Regions from separate parts of the Homo sapiens genome. Here region 2 is reported to be linked to region 1. The links are microRNA targets in miRTarBase. Many come from high-throughput screens and were not tested one by one. Region 1 holds a microRNA gene; the other region holds the end of a gene's coding sequence.
Evidence for each region. Region 1 holds the annotated microRNA hsa-miR-6866-3p (GAUCCCUUUAUCUGUCCUCUAG, at 2,254-2,275, opposite strand). A microRNA usually pairs through its seed, bases 2 to 8, with sites in the 3' UTR of a target mRNA and lowers its output. Matches are read on the target gene's strand: a 7mer-m8 pairs with bases 2 to 8, a 7mer-A1 pairs with bases 2 to 7 and ends in A, and an 8mer does both.

Region 2: miRTarBase lists SNX9 as a target of hsa-miR-6866-3p. Seed matches in the 3' UTR shown: 7mer-m8 at 558-564.

Annotation. Positions count from the first base shown.
Region 1 is chr17:40,160,727-40,164,254 of GRCh38, reverse strand. MIR6866 (microRNA 6866) reads right to left here and starts at 2,322; the gene lies at 2,254-2,322. CASC3 (CASC3 exon junction complex subunit) reads right to left here. Exons shown (of 14, transcript NM_007359.5): 4 at 2,344-2,502; 5 at 2,102-2,253; 6 at 1,354-1,530; 7 at 89-774.
Region 2 is chr6:157,942,355-157,945,354 of GRCh38, reverse strand. It overlaps SNX9 (sorting nexin 9), which reads right to left. Exons shown (of 18, transcript NM_016224.5): 18 at 278-2,564. The coding sequence ends at 2,517. Among named protein-coding and RNA genes, the nearest start is that of SYNJ2, 38 kb to the left of the region's middle.

The sequences.
Region 1 (3,528 bases):
ACACCACCTTCCTGAGACAGAAGTCCCATGCCCCTAAACCTGATGATGCAAAGGGGAAAAAGCTAGCCACCAATCCTATGATACCTACCTCGAAGTTCCCGTGGTTGCAGGAAAGAAGGCTGCCCCGGACTCCAATTCTGTTCTGCTATATTTAGTTGTGCCACATCTTGCTCAAGTCCACTTGTACTAGAATCCACCGGAGCTTCCCAGGTCCCAGTCTTAGTAGGTGGAGTTGGGGTGGTTTCTGGGACTGGAGGTGCTGGAATCAGTCCTTCAGGAGGAGGGGGCACCTCCTCTGCAAGCTTGACTGCATCTCCAACTTTGGTTCGAGTTCTTCTTGCCCGGGAATAGGATTTCTTCTCAATGGGCCTATCAGGGGGTGGTGGTGCAGCATCAGGAGCAGCAGCTGGTGGCTCTGAGGCTGCCTCTTCCTTCTCAGGACTGCCAAGCACTGGAGCATCTGCTTCTGGAGATGGATCCCTCACAGAAGTCTGCTCTAGGCGCCGTGACCGGTAACTAATCTCATGCTTAACAGTCTCACCAGACCGGCCACCATGCTGCCCACCAGCTTCCACAGGCCTAAAACCAGCACGACCTTCCTTGAAGCCCCCAGATCGAGAATAATTCCTGGGTGCAGACATACGGCCGGTACCTGCAGCATTCCTGTTAATAAATGTCCTTGGTGGTAGGGTGCCCCCAAGACCCTGGTGGCGATGAGACTTGTTTAGCCGCTCACCGTTCCAGTTTGGATCTCTTTGTGGAGGACTCCCATATCTACAAAAAATGGAATGAAGAAACTGTTAGGAAATTAACAAAAGGAGGCTACGCGCGGTGGCTCAGGCCTGTAATCCCAGCACTTTGGGAGATCGAGACGGGCAGATCACTTGAGGCCAGGAGTTCAAGACCAGCCTGGCCAACATAGCGAAACCTCATTTCTACTAAAAATACAAAAATTAGCCGATCGCGATAGTACGCGCCTGTAATCCTGGCTACTCAGGAGGCTGAAGCAGGAGAATCACTTCAACCCAAGAGGTGGAGGTTGCAGTGAGCCGAGAACATGCCATTGCACTCCAGCCTAGGCAACACAGCGAGACTCTGTCTTAAATAAATAAATAAAAAGAAAAGCAAAGAGAATTCTTTCTAAAAGATATCAAGAGTCTACACTCTATTTTTTTTTTCCTTTTTTTCTTTTTTTTTTTGGAGACAGGGTCTCACTATGTTCCCCAGGCTGGTCTTGAACTCCTGGCCTCAAGCAATCCTCCTGCCTCAGCCTCCCAAAGTGCCGGGATTCCAGGTGTAAGCCACCGTAAGCCACCATACCCAGCCTGGTCTTATGTTCTAAAATGTCCTCACCGGGGTTTCCGGATTCTTCGAGGTTTGATGTCATCAGGATTATGAGCTGAGCGAATGTCATAACCATAAAGAGCAATGAGCTCCTGTCGGGACTTTGGGGCCTGCTCATCTTCCCGGAACTTGTCATGCTCCCAGCGACCCTCATCCTTCCATAGCTTTCGCTGACGCCCCTTGGGTCTGGATAAAATGAAGGAAAAGTGTCTTGGGTCAGCAGAATTCTCCAAGTAGAGATGTTCTTGAACAAAATGGGTCAGGGAGGCAGGGGGACAATAGGAACTTTACGTAGTCTCCTCATCATCCCAAAGAGATTATAAAAAACAGGCCTCCCCAAAGCAAGCGTGAATCACAGAACCTCAGGGCCTGCTGGGCTCAAATATAACAGACACAGAAATGAGAAAAAGACTTCATTTCATGCCATTCAGTACCTTTGAAACATCTCCTTTCTCCTAAAAGGCAACCTATGCAAGTATTTCACTTCTCAGACGCCTTACACCTCAGACTAAGAAAAGCAAAAGTATAATAATTAAGAGAAGATGAGTTCTGGAAACAAACTGTCCTAGGTCTGTATCTTAGCTGCCTCACCAAGAGTTACCAAATATTCTAAGCCTACTTTCCTCATTTGTACGATAAGGATAATCATAATACTTATCTTAAAATGCTGTAATAAATGAAATACAGGCAAATCGAAGTACCTGGCCTACATGTGTAAAATACATGTTAGACAGCAGCAGCAGCAAGTGGCTTTTACCTGACTTCCTCCTCCTGAGTTTGCCCTCGAAGATCATGCTCAAAGAAGAGCCCTTTCCGAGGTATGTATGCTGGATTCTTCCGATCTTCATCATCATCCAAATGCTTAGGGCCCTTTTTACCCACTTTGTTCTCCACAGGCTCTGTGCTCTCCTAGAGGACAGATAAAGGGATCCTTACTCTTCCAAGCCTCAAGAATCTCTATTCCAGCCTCTAAAATGGAGGACTGTGGAATGTACTAACCTGTCCGTCCCCACTTTGCCTCTCTCCAGTCACAGTGCTTTTGGTGTCAGGCTTTTCTTCTCCCTTCTCTTCTTTTGTTGAAGAATTAACAGCATCATTAGCTTCTGATTTCAGCTCCACTTTGGAGTTTTCCTCTTCACTGTATTCACCTTCTTCACCCTGAAAAAAGTTTCCCTGTCAGCGATGCATATAAGATCTGAACGGTGCATTTTAATTCCCACCCCTGCCCCCAACCCCAAAACAAAGTCTCTGTCACCCAGGCTGGAATACAGTGGCACAATCTCAGCTCACTGTAACCTCTGCCTCCAGGGGTCAAGCAATTCTCCTGCCTCAGCCTCCTAAATAGCTGGGATTATAGGCGCCCACTACCGCGCCTGGCTAATTTTTGTATGTTTAGTAGAGACCAGGTTTCACCATGTTGGCCAGGCTGGTCTTGAACTCCTGATTTCGTGATCTGCCTGCCTTGGCCGCCCAAAGTGCTGGGTTTATAGGCGTGAGCCACCGTGCCTGGCTGCATTTCAATTTTCTACTCTTTAGGAATACATTTATCAATAAATTTTTAGTACAACATAGAACTGAAAAGCAAACAAATCAATATTCTTACCCATATTTCTAGAAAATAAAGATCCTATTTTGGCCTGGCACAGTGGCTCACGCCTGTAATCACATTTTGGGAGGCCAATGCAGGCAGATCACCTGCGGTCAGGAGTGTGAGACCAACCTGGCCAGCATGGCAAAACCCCATCTCTACTAGAAATATAAGAATTAGCCGCACTTGGTGGTAGGCACCTGTAATCCCAGCTGCTCGGGAGGCTGAGGCAGGAAAATCGTTTGAACCAGGGAGGCAGAGCTTGCAGTGAGCAGAGACTGCGCCACTGCACTTCAGCCTGGGCGACAGAGCAAGGCTCTGTCGCAAAAAATAGTAATAATAAAAAAAAGACACTATTTTAAAAATATCACATTAAAAAAAATACACACATACATACATATATATCCACATAGGTATTCCTGGAACATATGCAAGAATTATTAAAAGTGGCAGGCTGGGCGCAGTGGCTTACACCTGTAATCCCAGCACTTTGGGAGGCCGAGGCAGGCGTATCACTTGAGGTCAGGAGTTCGAGACCAGCCTGGCCAACATGGTGAAACTCTGTCTCTACTAAAAATACAAAAATTAGCCGGGAG
Region 2 (3,000 bases), not on the chromosome of region 1:
TTAAAATGACAGAATAAGAAAATGAATAAAGCTACCACAAAAGAAAGAAAGTGAATAAAGTCACCAATAAGAAAATGAATCAAGTTACGTTGTTCCACCCAGTGCCTCTGTGAGTCATCTTTCTTGGTGACCCCAACACCTACAAACCATGCAGTGGGTTGACATCCCGGGACTGCTGCTCCTGGTGGGAGGCAACTGACGTCACTTGCTTGACAACGAGACTGACCTTTTCTTCCACCACGCCTTCATCTCTCCTCTCCAAATACTGACTTTTTTTCCACTATATTTGTAAAAGTTATGTGATTGTATGACTACAGCTCTTCTGTGGTACCTACAGGTTGATACAAATCATTAAAAATCAAAACATCAACGTATCTAAGAACCAAATGGTGCATGTGACTCCCCGGAGAAGGATATATATGCCATGTTGCCACTTGAAGGAGAATCTTCCAGGCATCAAATCCCGTGGATTCTCTTATTTTCTTTCACATTCCCTCTGCTTTTCCTCACAGTCGGCTACCACGCTCTGAGGAGCCCGTGCCATCTCCATTTCCCCCATCCCTTTTTCACTTTGCCTCACACCAGTCAAATCCAAATATCCGAGAGTCAGACACTGGGAGACTGTCTGCTTCTTGGCAACTCCCAGGTGGTTATGATACGCTTCCCGGACCGCAACACTGACCTACGGAACTGAAATGATGAATTCATGTCAGAAGAAATAGGATTTGGGGAAGAATTCATTACCTGGACCATTTTCAGCAGCTGGAATAAAAAGTACTTAACAACAACAACAAAAATCACACACAAAGTCCAAAAAGTGTTTTGAAAAAGTGCTTTGAGAATTTACTGTACAGTTTTTTTAAACAATTTATTTATATGTTGGCTTCTACATGCTCTTACATTCGTGTAAAACATTTATACATATTCTTTACAATTTGTACATATATTAAATGGCTATAGCATAAACATTGTTCTATGGGATTTTATAGAAGAAAAATCAAGTGGGGAGAATTACTTATGAAACATTAACAAAAACCCGTGATATTGAAGAACAAGATGTTCTCATATTCATTTGATTTCATCTACTTATTTTTGGTGTCATTTTATTGATGCTGGCCCAGACTTTCCATTTCCCGTAATTATTAGGTCAGAAAAATGAAAGCAGCGGGAGGGAACGCGGTAAGGCACCTGTGGGAGACGGGAGCGCTCCTCCGCAGGGGTGAGACGGTGGCTGCCAGTGTTGAGTTCGAGCTGACGGTGTGCCAAGGTCCTGTTTTGCTTTATGCCGTTAAGTGAAGCGCTGGAAGTGCTGGTGCTCAGAAACACCCTGTGTGAAGTTTCGGATGTAGTCGGGAAGGGCGCTGGTCTGTTCTTTCTCTCCAACCTCAGAGCGCCGGGGACTCTGTACACTGCTGAGGCTGCAGCCCTTCTCAGTCCCTACACTTTTCCATCTAATGGGGAGCTAACCTGTGCTTTTTCTCTTTGCTGATGACACCAACTGGCCATGAACCCGCCACCCAAGCCAAGCAGTGTGCCGTGGCCACAGCAGCGCTTCTCATCACGGTGGATGAGGAGCCAAAGAATAAGAAAGGGCCAGAGACGCCGGGGTGCTGGGTGCCCTCCTTCTCCCAGGCCCTCCCGAACACAGGCCTCCGCACAGCCACTCACCCGTTGGACCAAAGCCACAAAATTCTCTACAAAGTCCCTCAATTCTTCTAATGTATTCTTCATGGCATAAAACATGCCTTAACCAAGATTAGGAAGGAAGTGCAAAGAGAGAAAGCACTGGTCCTCACATAAGAGCAGCACATCAGAAATGTCGCTGAGGACATGGGTGGCCAGGGGTATCTGCTCATCTGCCAGGCTGTGGGGTCCCCCTGGAGGGACATGGGATGGCCCACCTGCCACACACCACGATGGCACTAGCAGCCCCAGGGGCCCCCAGCGTCCTCCCTCTTGAAGTGTAAGCACTTGAGCTGTAACTGTGGCAGTGAAAGGCGTAACGACTTCCCTCAATGACAGGAGCCCCAGAGGACTGAAAGGAGTTATAAAAATATACAAACATAGATATTTTTTATTCTGGCATAGTTCATGTTTTTAAGAAAGTAATTAGTAATTAATTATCTGACACTGGGTAAGAACTGGAAGATTGTGGGAGACTTATAAATTATATAAGACTTATAATTTATAAGACATATAAATTATGACTCTATGTAAAATATCAGTGGGGAGAAACCCCTCATTTTCCATTGAAAATTCTGGTAACTTTTAAGTACTTTCCAAAAATAGAGACAATTTCCACTGGTTTAAATAATGGATGCGGAAATGAACAAAAGACCATCCCTAAATAACTGACGCATTTAGGGTGGCTAATAAAATAAATGCAGTTTTTTGCAACTCTTTCTTTTTGGTTTTGTTTCCTTTTTTTTCTGAATAATAGGGGAAAAAAAGTTTTGAATTGCATTGCCCCAAGTCAGGAGAAAGCACGCGGCATTCTCTTCAAGGCCCGTTCTGTCCTACATCACTGGAAAGCGGCTGAGGGCCTGCCTCAGCTTTTCTGCAATCTGACAAGAAAGCAAAACAAAACAACGTTGAGATATCACTCCCATTACGACCTCACAGTGTTCTTTATTCACAACTCCAACAAGTTAAACATGACACAAATTCCAATTCTTTAACTGGTCTTTTTGGCACCAGCCCTGCCCCGCGTTGCTGCTGGACAGACCTTAACCCCGAATGACACCGGCAGCGCTGGGGCCCGAGCTGGCCCTGGTGGTCCCTTCCCGCCGGGAGGCGTCTACACATGCTCCCCACCTCTGCCCTAGCGGCGCTTCCAGACCACCTGCTTTTCCTCAGATGAGCTGGGGGCTCAGGCCTTCATGTTTGCCTAGAGCCCCCTCTTTCCTGGAGGAGTATGAGCTTCCAGAATCCCCTGAAGGTTGTGTCGCCCTGGCCACACCCTGCTGTCACTGCTGAGTGTGCAGACAGCACGAGCCTGCC